Regions from separate parts of the Homo sapiens genome. Here region 1 is linked to region 2. The links come from fine-mapping of genetic effects on gene expression. A gene starts in region 2. The other region holds a variant in brackets. All regions are shown on one strand. Distances are between the middles of the regions.

Region 1 (10,058 bases), 120 kb after region 2:
AGTTTTGGGGAGGGATGGTTAACTCTGTTTACTGAAAGATATATTTAGAGGTCCAAGTAATATAACCAATTGGCAAGGGAGAATATATTAGAGAATAAACTGATTTTAATTGCTAATTTTAATGTGGCTAATTGCTGTTCATCCTCTAAGATGTAACTCAGGCATCGCTTCATGTAGGAAGAATTCTCTGAATTTCCTCATCCCCATCCAAAAGCACTAGGTAGGCAAACCAGGATCTACGGTCATCCTATATAATGCTCTGTCTAAATCTCAAAGTGCTTACCACATTGATTGATGTCCTATAATCACACAGAATCAGTGAATGATAGAATGCAGAAAAAGGTGTGGTATAGTGATGGTTTATGTGGACATGTAGAAGGTGCCATTCCTTCCAATGGTTAAACACTTCACCTCTGCAGCCTCAGTTCAAATCTCAGCTCCCTTACTAACTGTGTAACCTTGAGCAAGTCACTTAAACAATCTGTGCCTCAGCTTTCCCCATCTGTAGAATGAGGATAATGATATCTATTTAACAGGATTGTTGAGAGAGTTAAATGAATTACATATGCAAAATGCTTAGAAGAGCACCTGATGCATAGTATACGTGCCGTATAAATATTAGCTATTTATTGTTATGGCATGTAGTTGGCCTAATAGAAGAGGTAGAATTTGAACTGAAGTTGAAGAATAAGTGTATCTGAGTATATAGAGACAAGCTGCCAGTATGTGTGTACACATTTCTATGTGGCTGTAAAGATTAGCAGTTACAGTGTTGTAAGTAGGTGTTTTCATTTTATGTCTACAGGTTTCCAGCCACTGCACTGGGTTAGGAAAGTAATTCTACAGTTTTTGACCCAGCAGAACTTAGAGTCCACTTCCCTTCTACTGATCTCATGATAGACACTGATATGTTCATAATGGCATTCTTTCCAACGAGCAGGTATAGCTTCAAAGTTCTTCACAACATGACCTTCTAGGGTGGCCCTGCCAGTGATCACAAGAGCCGATAAGAGAAAAACACACACACTATTCCCAGAGGAGTCATTCTTTTCACAGCAGAGAAACTGGATCCCAGAGAAGTGAAGTCACTTGTCCAAGGCCACACACAGGCAGCCAGAGCAAGAAGAACTGGGGTCACTCTACCCTCTGAGGGGTGATTATCTTTCCATCGTCCATATCACTTGTTTATCTCAGTTTCTAACTAAAATTTTCTGCCACAAATATTTGCAAACTATTCATCTGACAAAAGTCTAATATGTAGAATCTCTAAGGAACTTAAACAACTCAACAAGAAAAAAAAAACCCATTAACAAGGGGGCAAATGACATGAACAGACATTTCTCAAAAGAAGACCTACAAGTGACCAACAAAAATATGAAAAAATGCTCATCATCACTAATCATCAGAGAAATGCAGATTAAAACCACAGTGAGATACCATCTCACACCAATTGGAATGGCTATTATTAAAAACTCAAAAAATGACAGATGTTGGTCAGGATAAGGAGAAAAGAGAATGTTTACACATTGTTGGTGGGAATGTAAATGAGTTCAGTCTCTGTGGAATAGATTGGAGTATTCTCAAAGACCTAAAAATAGAACTGCCATTTGATCCAGCAATCCCATTACTGGGTATGTACCCGAAGGAAAATGAATCATTCTACCAAAAAGACACATGCACTCATGTATTTATTGCAGCACCATTCACAATGGCAAAGTTATAGAATCAACCTAGATACCCATCAATGGTGGACTGGATAAAGAAGATGTGGTACCTATGCACCATGGAAAACTACGAAGCCGTAAAAAGTAATGAAATTATGTCCTTTGCAGTAACATGAATGTAGCTGGAGGCCATTATCCTAAATGAATTAATGCAGGAACAGAAAATCAAATATTACATGTTCTCACTTATCTGTGGGAGCTAAACAAGGGGTATACACAGACATAAAGAGAGAAAAAATAGACACAGGAGACTTCAAAAGAAGAGAAGGAGGGAGGGGGGCAAGAGTTGTAAAACTACCTTTTGGGTACTACGTTCACTGTTTGGGTTCAATACAAGCACAAAAAGCACATTATGCAATCTATTCATTATATCCTTATGTCTGTGTAACCAACCTGCATATGTACCCCCTAAATCTTAAACAAACAAACAAACAGCAACAAAAAAAACCCACACCAGTGCTGGAGCCAGGTCTGGGTCCAAATAAGTTTGTTAAAAAAAAGTTCTGCCACCAATTATATTGGTACAGGCTTAGATGGTGGAAGCATATATACGTATACACAAATATATATGTGTATGTATATATGTATGTATATATTAAATTATGTATGTGTGTATAGATATATCACATTGAATACATATAACTGCAAGTAATTAAAAACAAAAGGAAGCAAGGTACATTCATTGATCCATGAGGTGCCCTATTGTGATATTATTGTGAAATGCATAAAGCTTTGCATGCTCTGCAGTAGTGCTGATGGTACTATCTATCTGGCTTAACCAAATTATTGTGACACGATCTTGTACTCAGGTTGCAAATGAAAGCGCTCCACCAAGCTCCTCAGCAGCAGACTGAGTGTCCTTTAGAGCTTCATGCCCATAAGCATAATTTGTGATATTTTACTGCTCTTAAATGATGCATGATGAAATGATTGAAGACATCATTATGTGGAACAAAATGCACTGGGGAGTGTGATGCTAACTATTAAGCACTTCAAGCTTCTATGGGAGTGTTGAGTACTTTTACTGAAAAACAGTAAGGAAGCGCTGTTTGTTATGATCAAGACTGTATCTAGAGAAAGAGCAGTGCCTTAATCATATATAGACATGTTCGGCAAGCCTGGCAAGTGGGAGGGAGTAAGAGGAGTACGCAGCTTGATGCTGGATTTTAGTGATTTAATCAGCATTCACTAAAAGACTGTTAAAGTGGTTCCCAATCTTGGCCAAATATTAGAATTATCTGGGGAATTTTAAAAACTACTATTTGGGCACTCCCTTCTGAGGGTTTCAATTTAGTTTGAAAATTTAGTCAGGGCCAGGCATTGGTAGTTTTTAAAGCTCCCAGACGATTCTAATGTACAGCCAGAGCTGAGAACCAATGGTCTAGTACTTGAGGAGAAAACAGTTGTAGATCTTTACAGATGCATCAATGAACTTTTAAAAAAATGTCCTCCCTTTTTAAAAAATGCTCACATGGGGATTGTTGTGAGAATATAGGAGCAGGAGAGAAGGAATAATGGGTAAAGAGAATACAGGAGAGGGACAAATGTCTCTCAAAACCTTCACCAGATGTTTAAAAACTCACCTTAGGTGAGTGACTTCATAAAAATGCTAGTGACAAATCATGTCTGGAATATGACTCAATGTCTCTACTCTGGAGTTGTAAAAGGGCTTGATTTGTTCATCAATCCATTCGTTTAGTGAGCTTTTATAAGAGTACATGGTGCAAAAAACAATGTGCTGTGTTCTTTGTGCTCTTCAGAAGGAACACCTGCACAATTCTGAGGCAACCAACACCTGAAAGGTACAGAATATGCACATGTGGGTGGTGGACTTCCCTTTTTCCCTCTTTGGAGCCAGGTACTTTCTCTGGCTCAGGTAAATATAACTCAGGACTGGGAGGAAGGTATTGCATTTGCATGGTAAGGTGCGAGAGATAAGCAGGGTTTCAGGGGGTTACATTTTGATAGTGTAAGAGCCAAGGGAAAATGTCCGCTTTGCCCTCTGAAGGTTCACTGAAAAATCAACTGACAAAAGGGAGATTAATAGGAGAAATGGCACACAAATTTATTAATGTGCATGGAGAAGAATGATAGAATGATTACCCCAACACCCCAATGGGGGTACAGATGCTTATATGCCATCTTGAGTTTACAGAAAGAATGGAGGACTTGGATCATGGCCCAAAACAGGTTATGGTGGTAAATCATGCCTCTGTCCCATCCACTCTTACACCATAGCCAGTGCCATCATCTTACAGTATAAATGACATCACATTCCTTGCACATCACCCCCCTGCTTAGTGTCCCTCAATTAGAGACGTTTGAATCCTGCTCTACTGCAGCTGGAAGAGCTATGTTCCCTTTGCCCCAAGGACTTCATCATCCCCAACCACCTGTCGCTGTCTCTCTAGCACACTAGTGTTTTCTTTTTAAACTTTATCACAATTCATAAATATTTTGCTTGCTTGTATTTTTGTTGTTGTTGTCGTTATCTTGCCTACCAGATACTATCATTAATAACTCCAGAGATGTTTCTGCTTCTGTCTCATTCATTTTCATTTTCTAGTACCAAGCCCAAAGACTAGCACATGGTAGGCTTTTATTCCCTATGTATTTTTTTAAAAGTTTCAAACATAATGTTAACAGAATTTGACAATTAATGCCTGTATACCTAGCATCTAGTTTCTATTGTTATGTTTTCCTCATCACATATTTTTTCATTTTTCCATCCTTGTATCTACCCATCAATACATGGTTGACTTTTAATAAATTTATTGAATGAATGAATAAGTGTTACTCTTTTAGTCCATAGTCAGGAGCTGTCCATCTTTTGGTTGGCCTAATACAGACACTGAGCTTCTTTGTTTTTGTGTGGTCACAAGGTAGAAGGAGCTATATAATGTCCTCGTGGGTGGGAATTTGCTAAGCCCTGTATCAGGAGATTCAGAAATAAGGACAAATCTGCCTTCTAGAATCACCCCAGTAAGAGGATCTAAATATATTTGTGATGGAAGAAGAAAAAAATAGGAAATGTGGATGAGTGTTTTTTTTCCACAAACAACTTAATGAAGATTGGTTAGTCCTATCTTGATATTTAAACTGCCTGATATCTTGACATTTTGTGTTTTTTGTTGCACAAGCAGATAAAAGTAACTGTTGACTTGGCCAATACCAGGGAAAGAACATTTTACAATTTCTCGTTCGGTGAGTGACAAATGCAAGCTCACCGGAGCCATGGAACCTTTGGCCTTTCTTGTTTTTAAAGTTCTGTACACATCATTGAAATATCCAAGTAATGGAAGCAAAGGAAAAACACACAAAAAGTGTTTCTAATCTAGGCAAACTGGGGTCAAGGTAAAGAATGTCTCTCTCCATGTCTAGAAAATAAACTTAGCAGGCAGGGAAAGTAATGCTTACTCTTCTTTCCCACTACATGCTGATTGATAGGTTTTTTTTCCCAAACTATTTTTGATTATGTTTTTTGGACCCTGTATTTATTATTTTGACTGCTCAGAAGAAACACCTTCGAAGTGACATCCTGGGGTGGTGCTTTGCAATAATCTTTTATTAAGCTTTGCTGTGTCTATTCATGTTTATTTTAACTCTCTTATTTTTAGATGGAGGATTTTTTGAGAAGGTCAATGCAGTATCTTTGTGATTGAATTCCAGGAGTACTTAGCAGGGGTCCATGTATATAAGGGTGTTGAATCATTATGAACTGGGAATGCATCCAAGTTCATGCTTAACTGAGAATTCTCTTTAAATATTTAGAAGTGAAAGCAATCTTTCAAAATAGTCATGTGGGCCTTGGAAGCATAGAAATGGGTGAACACAGCATCCTAGGTACAGCAGCAAAGGTGACAGCTGGGACCTCAGCTTATCATTCCTCCAACCTTGGCTGTCTCCTAACGCTCTTCCTTCTATTTGATGGAGTTCTACTTTCAAACGTTGGTGACACTCATCCCATCAACTTTCATCTGTTCATTTTGTCCTCCCCTGGGCTTTCGTGTGCAAAATATTTGCAGGGCCCGGTGTGGTCCTGACCTGGATTTGCATCCTTGCTATGCTACTAGTAGCTACTAGTAGCTAATCGACCTTGAACAAGAAATGTAACTTTTTCAAGTTCCAGGCTCTTTACCTGTAAGTAGGAGACCTTTATACCTACTCCAACATGGAAAATGTGTCCAGCATGGAGAAGTCCCTTGATAAATGTTAGGTTTTTGTTACCGTTTTAACACCAGTTACCACATTGGATTACTAAAAAATGATAAGCTGGGGAGAAATATGCAATGTAACATCTAGATATTTAGTGCAATATGAATAAAAAGTAAATCTGGAAGTAGATATTTACTTACAAAATTAATTTTATTTTGCAAAACTCAACAAATACATGTTCAGATCTGGTTTCTCTTCAAAACATGTGTTTGTTTTTTTAACAAACATGCAAGTTAATTTGGCATGCCAAACATCTTTCTCTCTAGCTC[A/G]CCTTGGAAAAATTTTTTTCATAACACAAACAAGGGTGCAAATATTGTCCAAACCTATTTACATTTTTACCCTCTAGAATTACATACATTAATATTTATTGGGAGGAAAGCAAAACTGCAAAACGTAGTCTTTGGCATTCACATTTGCTTCAGCAGTATAATTAAAACCTTATATTTGTTTTAAAGATAAACAGTTTGAAGGAAATTTAATAAATCTTGTTTTGGCTCTGCAAAGGAGCCACTATATCAAAGCATTTAACTGGAGCTGTTGAGTTCCTGCTGGTAGAATATTACTTCCAGCCTATTTATTAGCTTGTCTTCCGGTGGCCCAATACATGCTTTTTTCCCTCTACACTGAATGAAAGTACAAAAAGAAAACCATTTCTTTTCTCTTTTTCCCCCAGCATCATGCAAGGCAAGGCAACACCACAAATACAATAACTGAATTTACTTTGATTATACTTTAGTTTCTTACACTTAAAATTATTTTGTATTATAATACTTACTTGGTTATCTAAAATCAACATTGTTGATTTTAAACGGTTATAAAGCCAGACTTTAAGAAGCATTTAAAACAATTCATGAACTCTGTATGAAAGGAAATAATTGCCTCCAGCTTATTCTTTTGCATTTGAAGTAAAAGAATTTCCAGTATCATCAGTTTACTAGAAAATAAGACTTAGGGGGTCCATATAATTTATTCACATCTTTTTATACATCGTAAACAAGGATAGGATACTTCTGACAGTAGCCTATAAAGATTTTTTAAAATTTATCCTTTAGTATAGAATAAGTGTCAAGGGAGCACTTTAAGCATGATTCTGGTAGGTCTGTTAGGAGTCTATTTTCCAGAAAAATTTTGTAGGAAATTGTTCTGATTTTAAATAAACTAAATTCATAGATTTGTGTTGACAGAATATGATTTGTGAGGTAAAGTCACTGTATTATCTCCGGTCTAAAGCACAATGTAGCATGTGCAAAAGAAACTAAAGAGACATGTATTTCAAACTCCAGGCAGAAAGGCAGAATATAAGAGTGCATAGAGAAGAGAGTGCTTTTCAGGTCAGATAGTGAAGGAAGACACAATAGTTACCTAAATCAATAAGCTGTAAGCAACATATAAATATGCAATGCCATTTCACTGAATGTGAACAGGATCAATTAGAAATTGTACTGTGATATCCACATATTTTTGAGAAAAATTCCCAAGCCAGGCGAATGTGGATTGGAATAAAGACATAGGCAGTGTATACCACCATAGCAATAATGGTTAGTAAGATGGTGTTAAACATAGATCGCTCCCAGGGCTCTAAAACAGCACAGCAGCTAATGATTTGGTATTGATAGTAGAGCCAGGAGAAATATTCCTTCACACGCCTCAAATCCATGGTTGGCTCCTTCAAGCTGCAGTAAGTTTGTCCTGTTAAAGAATGTAACAGATTAGAGGATGAGGAACCAAACATAGAATCACTTTAAAATTTCATGATCTCAGCATGTTAAAATCTTTCAAAGATTTGTTAAAGATCATTGAATATATTATTAATATATGAATATTCTGTAAAATAATACATACTATATTAACTATAAAAATTAATAATATTGTCACCACTACTAATAATCACTACTAAAATTGGCAGCAATAATACTATTAGTAACAGTAACATCTATCTAAACATGACAATTGTTAGAAATAACTTTAGTGATAATGGTACCTAAAAATTGAGGTTAGCCTCATTTTCCTGAGCCATGTATACAAAGAGAAATAAAAGTGAACCTAAGCACAGCTCTGAGGAAGAGACTTTTGAGATAAGGTCCAAGGGATCATTATGAGTCAAATGGATAGAATAGACAGTGAAGTAGGGAGAACAGCCAAGACAGAGGGAACAATATGTACAAAGGTTGGAGGTGGGAAGAAGTAGGTTGCTTTTGAGGGGCCACGGAGGGAGAAGGGAGCAGGGAGTGTGATGACACTGAAGAGGTGGGAATGGCCACAGTGAGGCCAGAAGCTGTAGGGCCTAGTTGGATAAGTTAACTGTTTTATCTTCAACCTCTGAGTTAGGGCAATGCTGTGGTGGGTTTGAGAGGAGGAGGCTTTAAGTTCATGTGGTAATGCTGCATTCTGGAGTCAAGTTGAAATGACTTTGGAGCCCAAGTATTTCAGAAAATCTGTACCTCTACTCTTCCCTAGGGCATTACTGTTTCAGAATCAACAGTATACTGAGAACCTGTTTAAAATATTCTTAAATACTCTTCATTTTTACAAATGAGATAATATTGCTTATTTAGAAATATTATTAACTTTTCTCTATATGTTGTGGCTATTTATTTATTTATTTGTTTTTGAGAGAGTCTCACTCTGCTGCTTAGGCTAGAATATAGTGGCACAATCTTCGCTCACTACAACTTCCACCTCCCAGGTTCAAGAGATTCTCCTGCCTCAGTCTCCTGAGTAGTTGGGATTACAGGCATGCACCACCATGCCCGGCTAATTTTTTTTTGCATTTTTAGTAGAGATGGGGTTTCACCATGTTGGCCAGGCTGGTCTTGAACTCCTGACCACAGGTGATCTGCCCGCCTCAGCCTCTCAAAGTGCTGGGATGACAGGCATAAGCCACTGTACCCGAACTTGTTGTGGCTTTTACAAATGCACTAATTGTCGGGCTCGGTGGCTCACGCCTGTAATCCCAAAACTTTGGGAGGCCAAGGCAGGCGGATCATCTGGGGCCTGGAGTTTGAGACCCGCCTGGCCAACATGGTGAAACCCTGTCTGTACTAAAAATACAAAAAATTAGCTGGGCATGGTGGTGGGCACCTGTAATCCCAGCCGCTGGGGAGGCTGAGGCAGGAGAATCACTTGAACCTGGGAGACCTGGGAGGCAGAGGCTGCAGTGAGTCGAGATCTTGCCATTGCACTCCAGCCTGGGCAAAAATTCTGTCTCAAAAAACAAACAAACTGCACTAATTAAGTGATGAGTAATGTGGTTAGGAGAATTCATTCATTCACCGAATGAATACATTTTAAGTATTACCATGTGGCTCCTTCTGAATATTAATGGCTTCGGAAAGACTTTATTCTCAAAGGCATCACAGTCAGGAGATGCTCTTCCAGGAAGCAGCAAACTGGACCATGTAACAAACATGCAGTGATCGAGGGCCCAGGAATGAGCACTAAGTGGGAGGAAAGGACATGGAAAAATGCTAAGGCATGGTGGGGCAGGACAATAGTCTCAGGTACTAGAGAGGCTGAGGCCAAGGGGGAAGGATCCCTTTGGTCTAGGACTTCAAGTCCAGCCTGAGCAACATAGTGAGATCCTGGCAAAACAAAACAAAACAAAACAAAACAAAACAAAACAAAACAAAACAAAACACTCTAAATTAAAAAAAATGCATTGATTAATTTCCCGGCTATTGCTTTCTCTATTAAAATTAGAATTCCTTGCTTGGGCAGCCCTAGCCAACACCTTAATGATGGCCTTGAGAAAGACCCTGAGCCAGAGGCATCCAGCTAATCTGTATCCAGATTCCTGAGCCATAGAAACTTCAAGATAATTAATGTCTATTGTTTAAAACCGCTAAAAGTCAAACAATCAATCAATGAATAAAAGAAACAGCAGATAAAAAGCACACCAACATGTATAGCACCAACAGTGGATACATGGTAAGATCTTGATCACAAATACCCCAAATCTGCAATGACTTTAAATCTGGCTGTTTTAAATATACTTCTGCACTGCTAACCATTTAAGCAGTTAAGATTAAAAAAATTTTTTTTTTGCCAGTTACCACAATCTCAGCCCTCTAAGTAGCCAGAACTGACATGTGAAAAGTGTCTCTTGAAAACACTGATTGT
Region 2 (12,611 bases):
GGCCATCCAAAGTGTTGGGATTACAGGCATGAGCCATTATGTTCGGCCAGGAATTCCATTTTAATACCATGGTTAAACACATAGAAATGAAGTTTGTAAACATATACTAAGGCTTAGATTTGAATACAGATAGATATCCTCAGTGCAAGGACTATGGGAGCTGAAAATAATCTCACCTATTATTTTCAGGTGAGATTTGAGGTTAAATAAAAAGTGCAAAGTGAGTTTCCCTCTGGTATTGTTTGCCAATATTATCCCACTCAGTCCAATCCTAGCAAGCTCATTCAGGCTCATGAGAGAGGTAGTTGAAATCAAGAACTTACTTTTGACATCTGGAAATCTTAGTGGTGGGGGCTGGCAGATGAAGAGAGAAATATAGGTGCCTTCTACTACAGAAGTATTTCATTTATCAAAAGGTTGTGGATAGGAATAGACGGCCTCAGCCTCAGAAGGGGAGGTAGGCTGCTATGGTGAGGGTCTGGGTTCAGAAACAAACTGTATTTCACGTCCCAGTTCTATCAATTATTTGCTATAGGACTTTCAACAAATTGCCTAATCTAATCCAGCCTCATCTGTAATATGTAAGGTCCATGAGGGCAGGGACCATATCTGTGCTGTTATTATCATACATCAAGTGCTTAAGAAGCCTGGTATTCAGAGCCAAATCAAATAATTGTAGAAGGAATGTGTTAAAAAATGAGCAGCCTTTGACATTTAGAAGCTGGTCTGGTACTTGCAGCTATGCCATAATATTTTCCTATTAGACAGAAATAATTTCACAGAATACTAAACTCAGACAAGATTACTCTGAAACCATGATAAAATGAGGCAAAGAAGGTCACTTCATAATTTTGTCTAAGCACAGACCAAAATAAGTTCACTATGCCACCCACAAAATACCAAACATTCCCTTTCTTCACCAAAATGAGTGACTGCTACTTCTTTGCTAATTGCAGCTTTATCCTCCTGCTTCCCTTTGTGTAAATAAGATTTACTGAGACATCCAATCACAGAATTGCCCCTGCTTTCTGACAGCATCCAATCTATAGAAAAACCTCTATTTTCTTAGGGCCTCCCCGAAAACACCCGCCCAAAGCCCCAATCCTATGATAGGTTTGTTCTAAACACCCTCTTACTGAGATACCCAAAGGGTATCCATGGTGAGTGTCTGGGCTCACTTCGAAGAGTAATAAATAGACAGAAGCTGCTTAACTACAGCTGTGTTCCTAGTGGTGTTTGGTTGAGGGCATAGGCAGTGTGAATAGAAAAAACGGGGAGAAAAACACTGTCTCTTCAGAGTTGTGGTGGGTATTAAATGGATAATTAATTTACCAATATATATTGAGGGTCTGTTTTGTGTCAGCTGCTGTGCTAGGTGCACCAAGAAGAACAAGACCCGAATTGCTCTCCAGGGTTTTGAAACTGCTGGGCATGCAGAGTAGAAAATTTATGATCCAATTCAAAGCACTATTATAGAGGCATATACCTCGTATAAAGGTGTTATCATAGAACCATATATACAGAAGGAGCATGTAACTCCTCTGGCCCTTAGGGACCGAAGGAGTCAGAAAAGAGAGGATGTATGGTGGACAGGATAATGGCTCTGCAAAGATGTCCTATTCCCTGAAATCTGTGAATATATTACCTAACATGGCAAACGAACTTTACAGATGTGATTAAATTTCTTGAGATGGAGAGATTATTCTGGATTATTTGGTTGGGCCCAGTGAAATCACAAGTGTCCTTGTAAGAGGGGTGCGGGGGGGTGGGGGTGAGAAAAGGAGACTCTGACTGCAAAATGATGTGGGACCACAAGCCAAGGAATGTGGGCAGCGTGTAGAAGTTGGAAAGGGCCAGGGAATGGATTTTCTCCTGGAGCCTCCAGAGTCAGCCCTCACCATCTATTTAGACCTGTAGCTTCCAGAACTGGAAGAGAACAAATTTGTGTTTTCTAAGCCAACTAAATCAGTGATAATTTGTTAGAGCAGCACTAGGAAACTAATTCAGGCTTAATCTTTAGTGCCGAGTCCCGGGTAGAAGCAAAGGAAGACTATTTTCTGTGAGGACCTGCCAGTTGGTCTTCATGGCTTGCGAGTACGTGTGCTTGGGAGTAGGACAGGATATGTGGAGATCAGATCCTGAAAGGTCTTCTTTCCACACAAAGAAACTGGAAATAATGCTGAAGGTAATCAGAGGCCACTGAAGGATTAAAAGCAGGGGAGTGTGACAAAATCAGAACTGCATTTCAGAAGGATGAATTGAAGTCTACAAGTAGAGACAACAGACGAGAGGCTACTTAAGTATTCTGGGCAAGAAATGATGAGAGGCTGTCTCTGATCACCCTCTACAAAACGCCTTTGCTTATTCCTTGAAATTTGGGATGAGAGGATTTAGAAAAAAAAATGGTTGTACTCTTCAAATATTTGAAAGGCTGTCATGAGACAGATTAGACACGGTCTGTGCTGCTCCAAGTTTGAGGGATAAATCAGTCATAAGAAGATATTAAATGCACTATCCGGAAGCACATAATTAATAATTTGTCTAAAAATCGCATAGACTTCTTCACAGATAATTATGCTTTACATTTCATTCTTTCAACAAATAATCATTTGAGCAGTTAGCATGTGGCAGGCATCAGGCCTGTATATGACGGTGAACCAAACAGACAAAAGGCACTGCCCTGGATGGAGTTTCTTTGCATAAGGTACCGTTTACAGATAACTTTTATATAAAATAATCATTTAATCAAGAAGCAAGCTCACAGTCGGGATAGCTGAAAAGAGACTAATATACGGGCGAGGTTGGTTTGGAGTAAACCCTGGCCTGGGAAAATCGAGACGATAACTGAAAAGCAGTCACTGACGGCAAATGAGCCCCTGGGACTTCTCTCCGCGAGCTTTCCCAGCCACCAGGCCGCTCCCATCACCCTTCCGCCCGTCGGTGCCGCCCCTTTCCTCGTCCCCACCCCGTCCCTTTTAATACGTCACTCGGGCCGCGGGATTTCGAGCATTTCGCTCGCGAGATCTTCTCTGTGGCGGAGACAGCCAGGTTGGCAGCTGACGGGACAGCCGGGGTCTATTTTGTTGCGGGTTTTCAGCAAATCCAGGGCTGGTCTGGAGGCGCGAAGTAGGTTCCGGAGTCCGAGACCTGGGCTGTCGGCCGCGGGCCCCTGAGTAGCGGATGGGGCGGGCTCCCCGGCCTCGGGGCCGTGCTCAGTCTGCGTGAGCGCCGCGTGCCCGGAACCCGTGTGCGGTCGCGCCCCGGGGTTGGGGGTCGGCGTGGGTGGCCCTCGGGCGCCGGGACGCCGTCCGGAGACTCCTGTGGCGTGGGTCTGAGGCGCGGTGGTCCGGTGCGGTCCCTGGGCTGGTGGAGAGCGGGAGGGCCCGGGCGTCCACAATCCCGAGCTGACCTCGCCCTTGGTCGTCCAGGGTTGGAGCCCAGGTGAGATGGAGGTCAGCGGCAGAGCTGGGTGGCCCGAGGGTCTTGCAGCTGGGAAGCTCAGGAAATCCCATGGTCCTCATCTTAAAGTTCTTTTTAACGAACTTACCCAGTGGAGTTGGGTTTCCTTCTTTCCTGCTTTTTCGAAGTTCTGTGAATATATTAATTATTCAGAGAGACTGGAGGAAGACGTAAAAAGAGGAGACTAGGTAAAGTGATTTAAATCCCAACATTCTCTTTTTTTTTTTTTTTTTTTTTTTTTTTTTTAAAAGAACTTAAGGCATACAGAACGATGGAGTATATGGCAGAATCCACCGACCGCAGCCCTGGACACATGTGAGTGCGACACTTCTTCCTTCCCCCTTAAATGTGAAAATCTTCAGTGAGCCCGGGAAACTCACTATGGAGAACGCTTGAGGGTGGGTGGGAAAGAGCGTATATTGTCATAAATGGGAAAAAATAGAAGTCTTATTTCTGTAGAAAATCGAATTAGTTTCTGGTTATAAAGCTTGTTCTAGTAAATATAAGCTCTAAGAGGGTTAAAATATTTACCATACATCCTTTTAGATCGGCACTGTCCAATATGTAGCCATTAGCTACGTGTGGCTATTTAAATTTACTTTTTACTTACTTTTTTTTTTTGAGACGGAATCTCGCTCTGTTGCCCAGGCTGGAGTGCAGTAGTGTGATCTCGGCTCACTGCAACCTCCACCTCCCGGGTTCAAGCAATTCCCTGCCTCAGCCTCCCGAGTAGCTCGGATGACTTCCTGATTTTTATTGGAGATTATAATGTAGTAATTTTTAAATTTTGAACATCTTAAATCTTAGTTATCAATTTTTAATTTCTTGCATTTAAGTTCAAATTAACTTTTTTTTTTTTGCTGTTAAATAGGTTTAATGATACAGTGCTCTTCAAAGAGATTACTACAGAGACTTTTAAACGATAATCCTGGAATCGTTCAGCACAGACCAATTAGCTAAATCTAAAATAAATTGGCTTCTTACCACAACTACCCTGTAAACATTGTAGTCCTTCTGTCTAGAATGACCCTAATCTCACAGGAAAACAGTAACTATGGAGAAACTAGCTTTGTGGCCAAAAGTAAAAACCAAAGGAAAAATAGGAATTCAGTGGTTAGTGAAAGCAGGAAATTTGGCCCCCTTCCCTGTGATGCTTTACTCTTCCCTTGTCCATCAGTTAGCTCAGTGGGTTTGAATAAGCCATCTGAAAATGTCTTTGGAGCTCAGCATAGTGCTGATCTTCCTTGTTCTATCAGTAGCTTTTAACAGACACTTGTCTAAGGGCTCAAAGCCCTTCACAGAACCCTTTCTTGGAATGGGTTGTTTGACCATTATACTTCCCTCCGGACAACCAGCACTTCTGGAAGAGCCTGGTTAGCTCTGTCAGGAACTGCTTTCTTTCCAGGTGGTACCGCTGGCTCCACTCTGTCAACATAAACCCCAAGCAGTTTAAGTTGGAAGTTTCCTAAATTAATTTAAATGGAATAAAATTAAATACTTGGTTGCTCGTTTGTACTAGCCATGTTGCCACATGTGGCTAGTGGCTACCATTGGACATGGAAGATTATTGAACTTTTATTTTGGACAATGTTGTTCTACATTAGGGGTTCTCAGACTTTTTCTGCCCCCAGTACATCTCGAATTATGATAGTTCCGTCATTTATACTGAGTCTCTAGATGTTGATAGACTTCCTATACTGTTAAAAAAAAAATTCTGCTATGGGTAAATGTTTATATTTCAGCAGTCCTTATGCTTTTTTTTTTTAATTGCCTTTGGAGTATATTGGCGTCTGATTCTGTTAGAAATGATTTAGATATTAGTTTCTATTGGTGTAGTCCAGAGATATACTTGAAGAAATGTTCATTAGAGATAAGTAGACAGCTGTAGTCTTTTAATGTAGTGACACCATACTGTTCACCTAAGCTATGGTCCTCTGTATGCCCTGAATAAATAGATTTTTGAAGACTTAGTATTTAGAGATGAGGTGGTTGAATTAAAAAGAGACAAACTGATCTTACATATTCTTGATACAGGATTTTCTTTTTGGTTTTTGCCATTGACACACTATTGCCTTGTTAATTGATTCTTTCTTGGTTTTCCAATTTTCAACAAGGGATAATGAATAACAGTGCTTCTCAAATTTTTCCCAAGTTTGCTATTACACTTGTGGTTGGGAAGTTTATCTGTTTATTTGTAAAAGTTAATGTGAATGTTTGTGTCTGCATAGAAAATGTTTGGAAGGATATATACAAATTATTAATAAATGTTATCTTTATGGATAGTGTTGGTTGGGTGTGGTAAAGAGCACGTTAACATTTTTAATTATATTTCAGTATCTAAAATTAAAATTAGTGCAAGATTTGTATTCTTCATCAATATACCTCCATTTGTTTTAATGTGACAATATAGTTTCATTTGCTTTTAATAAAAAAGACTTGTTTAGACCCATACTGGCTATTTAAATGTAAATTTGAATTAAAAAAATAAATTGAGTTTCTCAGTTGTACTAGTCACTTTTCATGTCCCAGTTGCCACATGTGGCTAGTGGCTACCTTGTTGTACAGACCAGAATAGAACATTTCTGTCGTGGCATGAAATTCTGTTGGACAGTACTGACCTTCTAGAACCTTTAGGACATCGGCCTTATATTGAGGATTTTTAGAATTATAGCCATTTTTGGTGTTTTTGCCCCTGTATTACAGGGTTATTCTTTATCTACTGCATCTTTGAAGATTGCTTTGTTTCTTTTTTTTGTTTCTTTTTTTTGAGACATTGTCTTGGTCTGTCACCCAGGCTGGAGTGCAGTGGCGTGATCTGGCTCACTGCAACTTCCACCTCCTGGGTTTGATATGCATGCCTCAGCCTCCCAAGTAGCTGGGATTACAGGCGTGCGCCACCATGCCTGGCTAATTTTTGTATTTTTAGTAGAGATGGGGTTTCACCATGTTGGCGAGGCTGGTCTTGAACTCCTTATCTCAGGTGATCTACCCGCCTCAGCCTCCCAAAGTGCTGGAATTACAGGTGTGAGCCACTGGCTGGCCCAGGTTGCTTTGTTTCTGTTATTTTTTTGAAAAGGGCAAAGATGCTGTGGCCTAACTTGAAGGCTTTTGTTTGTTTGGCATCTAAAAAAAAATTTAGTGTATTTTAAAAATCTAATGTGAAAAATTTATCCTTTATTTATTAAAGCTTGTGCTGTGAGTGTGGTGTTCCGATAAGTCCAAATCCTGCCAATATTTGTGTGGCCTGTTTGCGAAGTAAAGTGGACATCAGCCAAGGTATTCCGAAACAAGTCTCGATTTCGTTCTGCAAACAATGTCAAAGGTACAGTGCGGTACAATTTTGCTCTTTTTAAAGTTGGAATTTACATTTAGAGAACCACCGAGATATGCTGAGATTACACGAAGGTATATGGAGTAAAGTGCATGCAATTAAGGTTTAAATTTTCTGTTGGTGTCGCCAAAGATTTTAGAATTTGCAATTTTATAGTGTACTTTTCTAGTGTGTCCTTCTAATCTGGTAAAGATAGTGTAAATGTATTTGAATCTGTTCTTCTGTTAAAGGATCTAATAGATTTGATGTATATAGTTAATAGGAGTTGATGTTTGTAAGGGTGAGAGCAGATTATTGAGGACATATTGTTATTATGAGGTTTTTTTTTCTTTAGTTATTAGAAGCCATGTATGATAAAAAGCTTATGTTTGGAGTAATTTAGTAATATGTTTTAAAAACTCATAACATTCACGTGTAATTAAAATAACTATTGTTGATGGAAAAGAAGCTCAATAAATTATATCTGGAATGGTCTGAAATAAAGATTGGATTTGAAGGAAGAAGACTTCTTCTGAATGTTAATGTTTCATTCCTCTTGATTTTCTTTGTCAGCATAAACAACTTACATCTATTAGGCCATTGAGTAACACAAAACTGCCTAATGAGTGTAAAAGTGTATGCCTGTTATTTCCAAAATGGATTAAGACGCTAACTTTTTGAGTGTGTATCTCTAGAGGGGTGGTTCATGGACTCCTTTGAGAATTTGAAAACTGTATCTCTTCCCCAAAATATTTACATACATGTATATATATGTGTGTGTGTGTGTATATATGTAAAAATATATATGTGTGTGTGTGTATATATACATATATATACACAAACACATGAAACTGTGTACTGTTTCAGGGAGTTTACAGTGTATAAGCTTAGCAAGTGTGAGGCTTAATCTTTTATAAATATTTGCTATTAAAAGCCTGGTGGAGTTAGAAAAGTACTGATAAAGAACTAAACAGACTTAGTTTGTCTTGGCTTCCTCACAAACTAGCTGTTTGAAACTCTTAGCTGTTTATCATCTCTGGGCCTCAATTTCCTCATCAGAATGAAGGGTTTTATTAGGTGATATGTGAAGCCCTTTCTAACTCTAAACGTTTACTCATAGGCCAGGCTTGGTGGCTCACGCCTGTAATCCAAGCACTTGAGGAGGCTGAGGCGGGTGGATCACCTGAGGTCAGGAGTTCGAGACCAGACTGGCCAACATGGTGAAACCCTGTCTCTACTAAAAATACAAAAATTAGCCAGGCGTGGTGGGGCACGCATGTAATCCTAGCTACTCGAGAGGCAGGAGAATCGCTTGAACCCGAGAGGCAGAGGTTGCAGTGAGCCGAGATCATACACTGCACTCCATCCTGGGGGATGGAGCGAGACTCTGTCTCAAAAGAAAAAAGGAAAAAAAAATACGAAATAAATATGTACTTATAAACAAAGGGAGACCTGTGTAATGTTTTTGATTGAACCTTGAAAAGTGAAAGTCAAAACTTTCTGTTATGTAACAAGTATGGCAAAAAGACATTCACATAACATGTTTGGAAGTATTTTATATTTAGCAAGCATTTATTGAACACCTACTATAAGATGTATGTGGCATAGTGCTAAGTCCTGGGTAGGCAGGACTAAAAACCTTAAAGCACATATGTAAGAGATTTAAGTTTTGTTTTAGTCTGGTTTTACCCAAGATTTTAAATGTTGTTTTACAATTTACAATTTGAAAAGGACTTGAAATGTAGATGAATAGACTGAACTATTGCTGATTTATAGTGTTGTGAGGTACTAATGTACCTTTTTTTTGTGAAAAATAAGCAGTTCTCAGGCATTTTAGAAGTACATAATAAACCATTTTAATGCCATTTTGAGATGATTCTCACCTGTTTTTCAGAGCATAGCTTTAAGAGACTCTTGGACATTTTAGTGGTGATTTGGTGATTAAAGTAATAAGATCACTTTAGTAGGTTATTTCAGATTGACTTTCTCAGTCAGAATTTTACCTTTTTAATTAAAGCTGCTAGTCTAGTTGAAAGTTTTGGAACCATTAAAATATGTTTGAGTTAAGTGCTTCATATCATCCTTGGGTTTTATTATGCCTGGTTAATAATTTGGGTTATATCTGTGTATTCAGATGGAAATTTCTGTGTTTCCTGACAGATGTTGGATTTCAGTATGTTATCTTCTCTTTTAGGTATTTTCAACCACCAGGAACTTGGATACAGTGTGCTTTAGAATCCAGGGAACTTCTTGCTTTGTGCTTGAAAAAAATCAAAGCCCCTCTGAGTAAGGTAAGTTAAACAGCTAAAATCAGTATTCATAGGTATGTTTTCATTAAAGGTCTCATTTTCAGAAAATTCTTGTGAGTAGGTTTTTCAAAAGGAATTTTTTTTTTTTTTTTTTTTTTTGAGGTGGGGTCTTGAACTGTCACCTGGGCTAGGCTAGAGTACAATGGTGTGATCTCGGCTCACTGCAACCTCTGCCTCCCGGGTTCACACGATTCTCCTGCCTCAGCCTCCCAAGTAGCTGGGATTATAGGCGCACACCACCACATCTGGCTAATTTTTTGTATTTTTAGTAGAGACAGGGTTTCACTATGTTGGCCAGATTGGTCTCGAACTCCTGACCTCGTGATCTGCCTGCCTCGGCCTCCCAAAGTGCTGGGATTACAGGCGTGAGCCACCATGCTGGCCTCGAAAGTAACTATTAAATGTTACTATTGTTGCCAGTAGCACCCCACTACAAACACTTTTTAAAGTTATATATATTCTTTTTATGAAAAGTAAAAATATCTTTTTGCTTTAAAAAGACAGAATTTAATTTTTTTCCTTTGTTATTTATCGAGAATCTCATGTATAATTTTTTAACGGAAATTTTTATGTAAAACCATCACTAAACATAATTGGGATTATAATATTAGGGCTATGTTATTTGGTTTCTTTTTATTGTCATTATTGATCTGGAAATAAAATATTTGTGCCTGTCACTGAAAGTCAGTGCATAAATGTATTAAAAAAAATAGTTTGTTTAAAGTACAGTTTATTTCCTGATATAAAATTGAAAGTGATTGACACTATGAGTTTTCTTTATTTTAAGCTTTATGACTCACTTCTACCATGTTTTTAATTGAAATTGACTCTTTCAGATTGAAGACTTTTCTGATTCTCCTTTAAGCTCTAATAAAATTTCATGTAATAGTTCTTTGAAATTTCTGCCTTTATTTTCCTACTAGGTCCCAGCCAACCCCACAAATTTCTGATGGTCACTTTTTGGCGCTTCTGGCATAAAACTTTGTCTTTTTCCCTTCATATTTTAAAAAACCTTTTTGGTTTTTTTCGCTCCCCTCTGTTCTTGGTGATTTTTACTTTATCTTCTAATCTTTCTAATGAATTGTTTTTTTCCAGTAGTAATGTTTTTAAGTTCCAGAGTCTTTCATGTTCTTGATGCATTTTTTTTAAGTTTTTCTGAAGATTTTGATAATAGGACTTTTTTTGTTTCTTTCTGTTCCCTCATTTGTCTCTGTTTTTTTATGAAGTCAGTTTTTTGTGTGTCTTGGTTTTTTGCTTTTATACTTGGGGTTTTTGTCAAATGTCTAGTGAGTCTTAACAGTTCATTAATTAATTCATCAGATGTTTATTAAGTACCAACTCTGTGCCAAACTGCTTTTGGTGTTGGGGATATGGCAGTGAATAAGGCAATCCCTGTCTTAGAAAGCGTGTATTCTAATTGCACACTAACATGCCAGTGTGGAGCAGCATGTTAGTATGCAGCGATCAAAATAGGTGGATATATTACATGGTATATTAAAAGGTATATTCTGTGGAGAAAGGAGCTAGGAAGAGGATAAGAACTGTGCATGGAAGAGTTGAAATTTAAAGTAAGGGTGTTTAGGGGAGGGCTCACTGATAGGGTGACATTTGAGTAAACACTAAAGATTACAGTAAGGGAGGAAGCTGTGCAGAAATGTGGAGGAAGAGCATTAGGGGTAAAGAAAACAAATGTAGAGACCAAAAGCAAGAGCATACTTGTGTGAATAGAACGGAGTGGTGAGGGGAAAAGTAGTTGGGGATAGAGTCCAGAAAAGTCATGGAAGGCCACAGTGTGTCTGGCCTTGTAGGCCCTTATAGGGGCTGTTTCTTACTCTGAGTGTAAGGAGTATAGAGGGTGAAGGGCAGAGTAGTGAGATGACATGACTTATTAGTATTCCTCTGGCTGCTGTTTTTAGAATGGTTGTAAGGGAGGTAAAGGTGTTTAAGTTTTTGTAATAATCATGAGAAATGGTTTTGGATCAGCAATGGAGGTGGTAAGAAGTGGACAGATTTTGGATCTATTTTTAAGGTAGTAACATTTACTGATGTAGCTGGATGTGTTTTTGTAAGAGACAGAAGAGTTAAGGATGCCTTCCACTGTTCGTGACCTGAGCAGCCAAGTCACTGGGTAGGGGGCATGAGAGTTCATCTGTAACTGGTATTTAGATGTCTACTAGACACTTAAGTAGAAATACTGAGTAGGCAGGTTGATAAATAAGCCAATGAGTGGTCCAGTCTAGAGATAATGAATTTAGGATATAGATAGTATTTAAGGTCATGAATTGGATTAGATTATTTCAGGAGTTTACATAGAGAAGGAAAGAAACTGGAGGACTGAATCCTGGAATCATTCCTTTAATGGGTAATGATGAAGAAATAATTGGGTAATGAGGAGGAATCAGCAAAGGAGACTGAAAGGAGCTGCTAGGAGGTAGGAGGAAAACAGGGTGAGTGTGATGTCCTGGGAGGAAAGGGAAGTGTTTTAAGAAGAAAGGAGTGAGTAGCTATGTGATTTGCAGCTGATGAGTCAAGTAATGAGTTCTGTAGATTTAGTAATGTGGACGACCTTAATAACATGGGCAATTTCTGTTTAGTGGTGGTGGTAAAGATGTCATTTAAATAGAAATTAAAATGGGAGAAGGAAGATAGACAGTTCTTTTGAGATTTGCTGTAAACGAAAACAAAGAAATGGGGCAGTGGTTGAAGGGGAAGTTGGGGAAGGGACACTTGTCTTTTTATGTTATTTTATTTTTTGGAGATAAGGTCTTGCTTTATTGCTCAGGCTAGAGTGCAGTGGCGCTGTCATGTCTCACTGCAGCCTCAAACTCCTGGGCTCAGGTGATCCTTCTGCCTCAGCCTCCTAAGTAGTTGGTACTACAAACATGCACCACCACACCTGGCTGATTTTTATTTTTACTAGAGGTGAGATCTCTCTCTTTCTCTCTCTTTTTGGCCCTGTAGAGCAGAGATCTCACAATATACCCAGACTGGTGTTGAACTCCTGAGCTCAAGCGATCCTCCTGCCTCAGCTTCCCAAAGTGTTGGGATTACAAGCATGAGCCACTGTGCTTGGCCAGGATACATTTCTTAAGATGGTATATATAACTGTATTTGTAAGCTCTCTGGGAGTGTTAGAGTACGGAGGGAAATTTTTGTGAAATTGCAGGGAGAAGAATAATTGGCTGGGGGGTGGCCTCAATAAGTGGAAAAGAGATATAGTACATAGTGAAAGAATACATTTATTTGTTAATTCACTCCTTCATTCAACAAGTATTCAGCACTTACTCTTCACCAAGCACCATTTTGGGAGGCTGTAATATTTCATGGAACAAAGTAAAGATCTCTGCTCTCTAGAGGGGCATTCTGGAGGTTGATCTTGATGGGAGTATGGATAATTCATCTGTGGTAACAGCAGGGAAGGTGTTGAGTGGGAGCTTCTGGGAATTCTCCTCTGGTTCCTTCTTTTGTACTGGAGAAAACAGAAGCGTGGGCAGTAGCTATGTGGGAAGAGCTGTTAGATAGATGTTTGAGGA

What was found.
Region 1: its variant is fine-mapped to the expression of NMD3 in whole blood (INTERVAL, PIP 0.91).

The regions. Positions count from the first base shown.
Region 1 is chr3:161,338,728-161,348,785 of GRCh38, forward strand. SPTSSB (serine palmitoyltransferase small subunit B) reads right to left here. Exons shown (of 3, transcript NM_001040100.2): 3 at 6,071-7,628. The coding sequence starts at 7,596. The coding sequence ends at 7,366. Among named protein-coding and RNA genes, the nearest start is that of SPTSSB, 28 kb to the right of the region's middle. The variant A/G (reference allele first, on the strand shown) is at 6,209.
Region 2 is chr3:161,218,284-161,230,894 of GRCh38, forward strand. NMD3 (NMD3 ribosome export adaptor) reads left to right here and starts at 3,028. Exons shown (of 16, transcript NM_015938.5): 1 at 3,028-3,126; 2 at 3,711-3,774; 3 at 6,647-6,781; 4 at 8,964-9,060. The coding sequence starts at 3,731. It also overlaps the pseudogene SRP14P5. RefSeq lists enhancers at 2,601-2,710, 2,770-3,271 and a silencer at 3,191-3,390.